Linked DNA regions of Homo sapiens: region 1 is linked to region 2. The links come from fine-mapping of genetic effects on plasma protein levels. A gene starts in region 2. The other region holds a variant in brackets. All regions are shown on one strand. Distances are from middle to middle.

Region 1 (2,998 bases), 54 kb before region 2:
GGAGCTTCTATTAAAGACATTTTTAAAAACCTGATTGGGAAGAAATAAACATAAATATAAGCTCTTCAAAGCCAAAAGTCACAGGAATACAATCACCATTCTAATGATATGGTGTATAACTGACGCCTCTTGCATCAGTTAAATTTTCCTCAAACTATTGTATATTAGCTTTTTTTTTTTGTAATGAAGAGCTGAGATGGGACCATATTTTATTAAAAAGAGAACTCCTCATAAATTATAAAGTGATCACCCCATATCCAGGAACCTTTAGGTTGTTAACAGTTGTTATTCTTAAGACAGCGACATATTCTACATATGACGAGGCTGACTACTTTCTCTTGCTTATGATTGAAATATTTTAGAAATATTTTAGCACCTACCTGGCCATACAGATGATAATCAAATTCATAGATCTTGTTGAATTTTGAAAGTCCTTCTCTCTATAAAACAAAAATAAGTAAAAAATATAAATTACGTTTAAAACAATGGATTCCTTTGTATAATTCTTTCTGATCCTGAATTTGGCAATGATTTCTTGGTTATGATACCAAAAATATAACCAACATTGCTCCAAAGAAGATAAGAAATGGCCAACAAGCATATGAAAAGATGCTCAATGTTATTAATCATTAGGAAAACACAAATCAAAACCATGATGAGGTACCACTCCATACCCATTAGGATAATAATTAAATAGAATAATAAAAAAAACAAGTAAAATAACAAGTGTTGTTGAGGATGTGGAGAAATTGGACATTGTCAGTGGAAATGTAAAATGCTTTGGCCACTCTGGAAAATGTTGGTGTTTCCTCAAAAAGTTACAGAGTTATCACATGTCACAGCAATTCCACTCCTACAAATTTACCCAAAAGAATTAAAAACGCATTCAAATACACTTTGGGAGGCTGAGACAGTTGGATCACTTTAGGTCAGGAGTCCGAGACCAGCCTGGCCAACATGGTGAAACCCCATCTCTACTAAAAATACAACAATTGGCCAGGTGTGGTGGTGTGTGCCTGTAATCCCAGTTACTTGGGGAGGCTGAGGCAGGAGAATCACTTGAGCCCAGGAGGTGGACGTTGCAGTGAGTGGAGATGGCGCCACTGCACTCTAGCCTGGGTGACAGAGCGAGACTGTCTCAAAAAACAAAAAACAAACAAAAAAACACATTCAAACAAAAACTTGTACATGAAAGTCTATAGAAGTTCTTTTTTTTTTTTTTTTTTGAGATGGAGTCTGGCTCTGTCGCCCAGGCTGGAGTCCAGTGGCGTGATCTCGGCTCACTGCAAGCTCCACCTCCCGGGTTCACACCATTCTCCTGCCTCAGCCTCCCGAGTAGCTGGGACTACAGGCACCTGCCACCACGCCCGGCTAATTTTTTTGTATTTTTAGTAGAGATGGGGTTTCACCGTGTTAGCCAGAATGTTCTCAATCTCCTGACCTCGTGATCCACCTGCCTCGGCCTCCCAAAGTGCTGGGATTACAGGTGTGAGCCACCACGCCCAGCGAATGTCTATAGAAGTTCTATTCACAATAGTCAAAAGATGAAAACAACCCAAATGTCCATCAACTGATGTATGGTAAAATGAAATATGATCTATCCATATGATAGAATATTATTCAGCCATAAAAAGGAATGAAGAGGCCAGGTGCAATGGCTCATGCCTGTAATTCCAGCACTTTGGGAGGCTGAGGTGGGCGGATCATGAGGTCAGGAGTTTGAGACCAGCCTGGCCAACATAGTGAAACCCTGTCTCTACTAAAAATACAAAAAATTAGCTGGGCGTGGTGGTGGGTGCCTGTAATCCCAGCTACTTGGGAGGCTGAGGCAGGAGAATCGCTTGAACCTGGGAGGCGGTGGTTACAATGAGCCGAGATCTCATCACTGCACTCCAGCCTGAGCGACAGTGAGAGAGACTCCTTCTCAAAAACCAAAAAAAAGGAATGAAGAACTGATATTAATACATGGTACAACATGGATGGACTTCAAGATTATGTTAAGTGAAAGAAACCTGACACAAAAGAGCATGTAAGATATGGGTCCACTTATAGGAAATGCCCAGAACAGGCAAATCCATGGGGAAAGAAGGCAGATTCGTGGTTGTGAGGGGCTGAGGAGAGGGTAAGGGGAGTGACTGCTTAATGGATATGAGGCTTCCTCTTGGGGTGAAAAAAAACCTTCTGGAACTAGATAATGATGATGGTGGCACATTTAGTGGACAAAATTCCACTGAACTATATACTTCAAAATGATTAAAATGGTCAATTTTCTGTGCATTTTACCACTCAACCTACATGGCTCTCTAAGATTCTTATGATCTGCACTCAACTGCTGCTCTTGCTTAACTCATCGGTGTCTCTTCCCACCACACCACACCCCTAACTTCTCACTGTTTCTGAATATGCCAAGCAGTTTCAAGCCACTAGGTTGTTCTTTACAGTTTCTACTGCCTGGTAAAACTTTCAGGCTCAGCTCAAACATGCATTCAACAACTATGAATTTTTTTTTTTTTTTTTGAGACAGAGTCTCACTCTGTTGCCCAGGCTGGAGTGCAGTGGCACAATCTCGGCTCACTGCAAGCTCCACCTCCCGGGTTCATGCCATTCTGCTGCCTCAGCCTCCCGAGTAGCTGGGACTACAGGCGTCTGCCAGCATGCCCGGCTAATTTTTTGTATTTTTAGTAGAGACAGGGTTTCACCGTGTTAGCCAGGATGGTCTCAATCTCTTGACCTCATGATCCGCCCACCTCAGCCTCCCAGAGTGCTGGGATTACAGGTATGAGCCACCATGCCTGGCCTAATTTTTTTTTGAGATGGAGTCTCACTCTGTCGCCCAGGCTGTAATG[T/C]AATGGCGCAATCTAGGCTCACTGCAAGCTCCACTTCCCGGGTTGAAGCGATTCTCCTGCCTCAGCCTCGTGAGTAGCTGGGATTACAGGACCCCGCCACCACACCTGGCTAATTTTTGTATTTTTAGTAGAGATGGGGTTTTGCCATGTTG
Region 2 (8,522 bases):
CCAGCCTGGCCAACACAGCGAAACCCCGTCTCTACTAAAAAATACAAAAATTAGATGGGCATAGTGGTGGGCCCCTGTAATACCAGCTATGCGGGAGGCTGAGGTAGGAAAATCGCTTGAACCCAGGAGGTGGAGGTTGCAGTGAGCCGAGATCATACCATTGCACTCCAGCCTGGGTGACAGAGCAAGACTCCATCACAAAAAAAACCAAAAAGAAATACACAAGGCCAGGCATGGTTGCTTACACTTGTAATCCCAGAACTCTGAGAGGCTGAGACGAGAAGATCACTTGAGCCCAGGCGTTCAAGACCAGCCTAGGCAACATGGCAAAACCCTGTCTCTAAAAAAAAATACAAAAAATTACCCGAGCCTGGTGGCGCACGCCTGTATTCTCAGCTACTCTGGGTGGCTGAGGCAGGATGATCACTTGAGTCCCGGAGGTTGAGGCTGCAGTGAGCCCAGATTTTCCCACAGCACTCCAGCCTGGCCAAGAGAACAAGACCCTGTCTCAAAAAAAAAAAAAAGAAAAGAAAAGAAAGAAAGATGCAATAAATGGGTGCAAGGCTACTTTAGACTGGGTCAGGGAACGTCCCGGAGCTGAAATCTGAGCTGTGGAAAGGAGCCAACCATGAAATCTGGGATGAGAGCAATCTACGCAGAGTAAACAAGTGCAGAGCACCCCAAGTTCAAAGGCCAGACAAAGGAGAAAGTGTGACTGGCCAAGGGTCAGAAATCAGGCTTGCACACCTGAAGTCTGGGGAGTCACAGGACCACAAGAGTCAAGACCACCCTGGGCAACATAGGGAGACCCCGTCTCTCTAAAGAAAGAAAAAAAAGCGGTCAGGCGCGGTGGCTGACGCCTGTAATCCCAGCACTTTGGGAGGCCGAGGTGGGTGGATCACTTGAGGTCAGGAGTTTGAGACCAGCCTGGCCAATATGGTGAAACCCCATCTCTACTAAAAATACAAAAATTAGCTGGGCGCAGTGGCTCAATTCCTGTAATCCAAGCACTTTGGGAGGCCAAGGCGGGTGCATCACCCCAGGTCAGGAGTTCGAGACCAGCCTGACCAACACGGTAAAACTCCATCTCTACTAAAAATACAAAAATGAGCTGGGTGTGTGGTGCGCACCTGTAACCCCAGCTACTCAGGAGGCTGAGGCAAGATAATCGCTTGAACCCAGGAGGTTGCAGTGAGCTGAGATCGTGCCACCGCACTCCAGCCTGGACAACAGAGCAAGACTCTGTCTCAAAAAAAAAAAAAAAAACAAAAACAAAAATTAGCCAGGCATGGTGGCATATGCCTGTAATCCCAGCTACTCAGCAGGCTGAGACCAGGAGAATAGCTTGAACCAGTGAGGTAGAGATTGCAGTGGACCGAGATCATGCCACTGCACTCCAGCCTGGGTGACAGAGCTAGACTCCGTTTCAAAAAAAAAAACAAAAAAGAAAAAAGGGGGCTGGGTGCAGTGGCTCACATCTGTAATCCCAGCACTTTGGGAGGCCGAGGCGGGCAGATCACGAGGTCAGGAGATCGAGACCATCCTGGCTAACATGGTGAAACCCCGTCTCTACAAAAATAAAAAAAAATTAGCTGGGCGTGGTGGCGGCGCCTGTAGTCCCAGCTACTCAGGAGGCTGAGGCAGGAGAATGGCGTGAACCCGGGAGGCGGAGCTTGCAGTGAGCCGAGATCGCGCCACTGCTCTCCGGCCTGGGCAACAGAGTGAGACTCCGTCTCAAAAAAAAAAAAAAAGAAAATTGGGAATCTTAGGGACATCTTCATTAACATTCAGTAATACCTGGTAAGTCCCCCAGCCAACACAGCTCACTGCAACATCAGTCATTACAACATTGGATATTTCTGTAGAGGCACTGTTGCTCATGTGTGGCATGATCCTCAACGTCAGGGAAAAAGACCTAGTAAGTGAAGTCACCTGCAAGGTCACCAGCCTCCCCATGCCTCCAAATCTTACCTGGGCCTCTGTCACATAAGAGGATCCAGCCAAGGATCTGCTCAGGGAACTAACTTGTTGCACATCTTCTATCTCACACACATTTTGTGTTCTCTTCTTTACAGAAGAGGAAATTGAGGCCCAGGGAGCTAACTTGTCTAAAGCCATATAAGAGCCAGAATCTGAACAATGGTTTCTCTTCAGTTCCAAGGCCTTGTCCCAGGACATTGCACTAAATAAAAACACAATTACCCACTTCCGTTCCAAGTTCCCCCAAGTAATAAATTTACGTTATTTCTTTTCTTTTTTTTCTTTTCTTTCTCTCTCTTTCTTTCTTTTGAGATAGAGTCTCACTCTGTCACTCAGGCTGGAGTGCAGTGGCGTGATCTCCGCTCACTGCAACCTCCACCTCCCGGGTTCAAGCGATTCTCCTGCCTCAGCCTTCCGAGTAGCTGGGATTATAGGTGTGTGCCACCATGGGCAGCCAGGTTTTTTTGTATTTTTAGTACAGACGGGGTTTCACCATGTTGGCCAGGCTGGTCTCCAACTACTAACCTCAAGTGATCCGCCCACCTCGGCCTCCCAAAATGCTGGGATTACAGGCATGAGCCACCGCGCCCGGCCTACAATGTTATTTCTGCAAGAACCTAAACTGGTGTTTCCAGTCTATTCTCTGGGTAACTGCCCGATTGAAGGCCCGCATCTGTGCTGACCTCAGCTGGACCAAGGGTCACTTAACTCCCGGAATCTCGAAGCCAAGGCACCGGGCCAAGAACTTCACAGTGCAACATTTGTCTCCTAGAACAGGGGGTGGCAGATTGCGGGCAACAGGAAGAGCTCATTCCCCACAGGGATCTGGTGGCACGGGCCAAAAGTGGAGCGACCCTGCGCGCAGCCTTTAGGGGCGCAGGCTTTGAGAACCCGGGTTCTATTCCGGGCTCTGCCATTTAAGTTGCCTCCTTTCTCAGGGCCCCACCACCTTCCTCACCTGTAAAATGGGGGAAACAGTAGCACTTGACTTGCAGCTTTGTTGTGAAGGAGCTAGGATTGTTTAAATCGAAAATGCTCAACGAGAAAAGTGTTCAGTGGAGAGCTACTACTCACATCCCCGATAAGCCTTCGCATTCTTGCCAAAGGCCACGGGCCGCCACCCCATCATACCGAATGTGCCTGGAACTGGGGCGCTGCGGCTGGCCGCCGCCCGATCCCCAGCCCAGGCGCGACCCAAGCGCTCCCCTCCCGTCATTGCGGCTGCAGAGGGTGGGGTACGGCGGGGGACAGCGAGGACGCCGAAGCACCCCCCGGGCTCTGGGACGCCGCGGCCCTCGGACCCGAAGCCGCCCACCTACCGGAACACGGCCCGCGCACGTACCTAGCGACGCCTCCGTCCTACGCCGCCGCCGGTGCCACCAGTCCCAGACCCGCTGACCCAACGCCCCGCGCACCGCCGCGGGCCAGCCACGTGACCAGCCGCTCCAACCCCAAACCCCGAACTTGGCGCTGGACCGCTCGAGCTCAGGAAGGTGCACTCTGCGCGCCAGGCTTGGGCTTGGCCCCGCCCCCGGAGGCGCCCAATCAGAGAGCGCAGCCAAGCATGGGCCGCCACCAAACGCACCCGCGCTATTGGCTGCGGCGCAGCGGCGGGCAGGGCCTGTTTCTCCGGGGCGGGCCGGAGGCCGCGTAGTGCAGCTGCGCACCTGGGGCAGGGACCTGCAGAACTGACCCGCTTTGGCTGCAGGGCTGGTGTGTGGACCAAGATTTCCAGGAAGACTACACAGGGCCTTCCTCACTTAAGCCTGTCGCTTGGGCCGTGGGATTATGAGTGAATTTTGTTCATGGTACTACTTTTAGTTTGCAGGGTGGTCATTTAAAGTAGGACAAATGTGCGTCCAAACTGCAACATTATTACTCTGTAGGTGTATAATCCAAGAGCAGACACTTTATTATTATTATTTTTGTTATTTTTTATTTTTATTTTTTTGAGACAGGGTCTCACTCTGTCCCCCAGGTTGAAGTAGAGATGGGGGTCTAACTATGTTGCCTCCCAGGAGGCGGAGGTTGCAGTGAGTCGAGATCGCGCCACTGCACTCCAGCCTGGGGGACGGAGCGAGACAACGTCTCAAGAAGAATAAAATAAGATAAATAAAATACTGACACACAATAAGGACTCAATGAACATTACCTATTGTTAAGAATGATAAAAACCGGGGCCACATGTCAGGACCACCTGAGGCTGCGTCATAAATTTTTTTATTTGTCAAATGATAACAATAATTATTATAAGAATGATAAAAACCGGGCGCAGTGGCTCACCCCTGTAATTCCAGCACTTTGGGAGGCCGAGGCAGATGGCTTGAGCCTAGGAGTTCAAGACCAGCCTGGGCAAAATGGTGAAACCTTGTCTCTACAAATAATTTTAAAATTAGCTGGGTGTGGTGGCAGTCGCCTGTAGTCCCAGCTACTTGGGGGGCTGAATGGGAGGATCACTTGAGCCTGGGAGGCAGAGGTTGCAGTAAGCAATGATCTTGCCTCTGTACTCCAGCCTGGGCAACAGAGTGAGACCCTCATCATCTCGAAAAACAAACAAACAAAAAATACAAAAAAAACTTTTTTTTTTTTTTGAGACAGAGTCTTGCTCTGTCGCCCAGGCTGGAGTGCAGTGGCGCGATCTCGGCTCACTGCAAGCTCCACCTCCCGGGTTCACGTCATTCTCCTGCTTCAGCCTCCTGAGTAGCTGGGACTACAGGCCTCCGCCACCACGCCTGGCTAATTTTTTTTTATTTTTGAGACGGAGTCTCCCTCTCTTGCCCAGGCTGGAGTGCTGTGGCGCGATCTAGGCCCACTGCGAGCTCTGCCTCCTGGGTTCATGCCATTCTCCTGCCTCAGCCTCCCGAGTAGCTGGGACTACAGGAGCCCACCACCACGCCTGGCTAATTTTTTGTATTTTCAGTAGAGACAGGGTTTCACCATGTTAGCCAGGATGGTCTTGATCTCCTGACCTTGTGATCCACCTGCCTCAGCCTGCCAAAGTGCTAGGATTACAGGCGTGAGCCACCACACCCGGCTAATTTTTGTATGTTTAGTAGAGATAGGGTTTCACCATATTGGCTAGGCTGGTCTTGAACTCCTGATCTCAAGTGATCCATCCTCCTCGGCCTCCCAAAGTGCTGGGATAACAGGCAAGAGCCACTGCGCCTGGCCAACATAGTGAGTGTTTTTGTTTTTTGTTTTTGTTTTATTTATTTATTTATTTGAGATGGAGTCTCGCTCTGTCACCCAGGCTGGAGTGCAGTGATGCGATCTTGGCTCCCTGCAACCTCTGCCTCTCTGGTTCAAGCAATTCTCCTGCATCGGCTTCCCGAGTAGCTGGGACTACAGGCGTGCACCACCATGCCCAGCTAATTGTTCTTTTTGTTTGTTTGTTTGAGACGGAGTCTCGCTCTGTCGCCCAGGCATGAGTGCAGTGGCTCGATCTTCGCTCACTGCAATCTCCACCTCCCAGGTTCACGCCGTTCTCCTGCCTCAGCCTCCCGAGTAGCTGGGACTACAGGCGCCCGCCACCATGTCCGGCTAATTTTTTATATTTTTAGTAGAGACAGGGTTTCACTGTGTTAGCCAGGATGGTCTTGATCTCCTGACCTCTGATCCGCCTGCCTCGGCCTCCCAAAGTGCTGGGATTACAGGCATGAGCCACCGCGCCCGGCCGTGCACAGCTAATTTTTGTATTTTTCTCACAGACAGGGATTCGCCATGTCAGCCAGGCTGGTCTCGAACTCCTGACCTCACGTGATTCACCTGCCTCGGCTTCCCAAAGTGCTGGGATTACAGGCACAAGCCACCGCGCCCGGCCTGTTGTTTGTTTTTTTGAGACGGAGCCTCTCTCTGTTGCCCAGGCTGAGGTGCAATAGTGTGATCTCGGCTCACTGCAGCTTCCGCCTCCCGGGTTCAAGCAGTTCTCCCACCTCAGCCTCCCAAGTAGCTGCGACTACAGGCGTGCGCCACTACGCCCTGCTAATTTTTGTATTTTTAGTAGAGACGAGGTTTCACTATGTTGGTCAGGCTGGTCTCGAACTCTTGACCTCAGATGATCTGCTCGCTTCAGCCTCCCAAAGTGGTGGGATTACAGGCATAAGCCACTGTGCCCAACCCGTGAGTTTTTTAATATCCAAAGTAAGATTTCTGGGTCAAGCTTTTAGTAAATATTGCCATATTGCTTTCTACAAGCATTGTAACAATTCACACTCCCAGCAACAATTTAGGGAAATACCCATTTCCCATTTCTTCTCCAGCACTGAATGCTTCATTTTTTATTTTTTTATTTTTTTTAGATAGAGTCTCTGTTGCCCAGGCTGGAGTGCAGTGGCGTGATCTTGGCTCACTGCAATCTCTGCTTCCTGGGTTCAAGTGATTCTCCTTCTTCAGCCTCTCGAGTAGCTGGGGTTACGGGCATGCACCATGACACCTGGCTTTTTTTTTTTTTTTTTTTTTTTTTTTGTATTTTTAGTAGAGACGGGGTTTTGCCATGTTGGCCAGGCTGGTCTCAAACTCCTGACCTCAAGTGATCCACCTGCCTCAGCTTCCCAAACTGCTGGGATTACAGGCATGAGCTACTGTGCCCGGCCTACTGATACTTAAATTTTTTTTTTTTTTTTTTTGTTTTTTGAGATGGAGTCTTGCTCTGTCTCCAGGCTGGAGTGCAGTGGCACAATCTTGGCTCACTGCAACCTCTGCCTCCCAGGTTCAAGCAATTCTCCTGCTTCAGCCTCCTGAGTAGCTGGGACTACAGGCACCCACCACCACGTCTGGCTAATTTTTGTATTTTTAGTAGAGATGAGGTTTCACCATTTTGGCCAGGATGGTCTCGATCTCCTGACCTCATGATCCACACGCCTTGGCCTCCCAAAGTGCTGGGATTACAGGCGTGAGCCACCGCGCCCAGCTAAAAAATATTTTATTTGTGGCTGGGCATGGTGACTCAGGCTCACACCTGTAATCTTAGAACTTTGGGAGGCTGAGGTAGGAGGATTGCTTGAGGCCAGGAGTTCAAGAGTAGCCTGGGCAACATAGCAAGATCCCATCTCTATGAAAAATTAAAATTAAAAAAATTATGACATTTTGTGCTACATGATGAAAAAAATTAAAAAGAAAGAAAGAAAATTGGCCAGGTGTGGAAGTGCACACCTGTATTCCCAACTAGTCAGGGTGCTGAGTGGGGAGGATCTCCTGAGCCCAGGAGTTCAAGGCTGCAGTGAGCTGTGATCGTGCCACTGCTCTCCAGCCTAAGATACGGGAAAAACCAAAGCGTTTTTCTTTTCTTTTTTTTCTGCTGTCATCGTATGAAATAGTCTATAGGTTTCCATTATATCCAGTTACAGAGGGTGTTACTGAGTTACAGATTTTCTGCCTGCTGGATCTGTCCGTTTCTGATAGAGGGACATTGAAGTCGCCAACTATAATAGTTTCTCCTTGCAGCGCTGTCACTTTTTCAGTCACATATTTTGATGTTCTGTTGTCAGGATCATACATGTTAAGGACTGTTATGTCTTCTTTGAGCATTGACTCCTTAATCATTATGTAATGACCTGTCCTTATCCCTCACAACTTTCTTTTCTTTCCCTTCCTTCCTTCCTTCCTTTTTCTTTTTCTTTTCTTTTCTTTCTTTTTTTTTTTTTTTTTGAGACAGAGTCTCTGTCAACCAGGCTGGAGTACAGTGGCATGATCTCAGCTTACTGCAGCCTCTGCCTCCCAGGCTCAAGTGAGTCTCGTGCCTCAGCCTGAGGAGTAGCTGGGATTACAGTCGAGTGCAACCATGCCCAGCTAATTTTTGTATTTTTAGTAAAGACAGGGTTTTGTCATGTTGGCCAGGCTTGTCTTGAATTCCTGGCCTCAAGTGATCTGCCCGCCTTGGCTTCCCAAAGTGCTGGGAAGCCACCCAGCACCTGTCCTGTTCCTGATGACTTTCCTTGCCCTGAAGCCTGTACTGTCTGAAATTAATATAGGGACTCCTGCTTCCTTTTGATTAGTGTTGGCATAGTAGATCTTTCTTTATCCATTTACTTTTAATATATACATCTTTAAAGTGTAGTTCTTACAAGGAGCATATAGTTGCATCTTGTTTTTTGCTGTACTCTGACAATCTCTCTCTTTTTTTCTTTTTTTTTTTTGAGATGGAGTCTTGCTCTGTTGCCCAGGCTGGAGCGCAGTGGCACGATCTCAGCTCACTGCAACCTCTGCCTCCTGGGTTCACGCCTTTCTCCTGCCTCACCCTCCCAAGTAGCTGGGACTACAGGCGCCCGCCACCACGCCCAGCTAATATTTTGTATTTTTAGTAGAGACAGGGTTTCACCATGTTAGACAGGATGGTCTCAATCTCCTGACCTCGTGATCCGCCCACCTTGGCCTCCCAAAGTGCTGGGATTACAGGCGTGAGCCACTTCGCCCAGCCCAATCTCTCTCTTTTAATCGGTTAATTTGGACCATTGATATGCAAAGGAATTGTTGATATAATTGGATTAATATCTGCCTTTTTTTTTTTACTGTTTTCTAATTGTTGCTTTTGTTTCTTTGTATTT

Direction of the effects. Positions count from the first base shown, and alleles are read on the strand shown. Strength reflects both the effect of a copy and how common the allele is.
In carriers of allele T in region 1, the plasma level of the protein whose gene starts at base 3,501 in region 2 tends to be lower than with C alone (strong association).

What was found. A credible set is the group of variants that fine-mapping cannot tell apart. PIP is the chance, under the fine-mapping model, that this variant and not a neighbour inherited with it causes the effect. Protein levels are from antibody-based Olink assays in UK Biobank. Linkage for the fine-mapping came from a reference panel and not from the study's own genotypes, which makes the PIPs less certain.
Region 1: its variant is the best candidate, but not a certain one, in a credible set for the plasma level of the SHMT1 protein (UK Biobank, PIP 0.88).

The regions. Positions count from the first base shown.
Region 1 is chr17:18,308,502-18,311,499 of GRCh38, forward strand. TOP3A (DNA topoisomerase III alpha) reads right to left here. Exons shown (of 19, transcript NM_004618.5): 2 at 381-440. Among named protein-coding and RNA genes, the nearest start is that of TOP3A, 5.0 kb to the right of the region's middle. The variant T/C (reference allele first, on the strand shown) is at 2,847.
Region 2 is chr17:18,360,050-18,368,571 of GRCh38, forward strand. SHMT1 (serine hydroxymethyltransferase 1) reads right to left here and starts at 3,501. Exons shown (of 12, transcript NM_004169.5): 1 at 3,323-3,501. RefSeq lists a silencer at 3,126-3,595.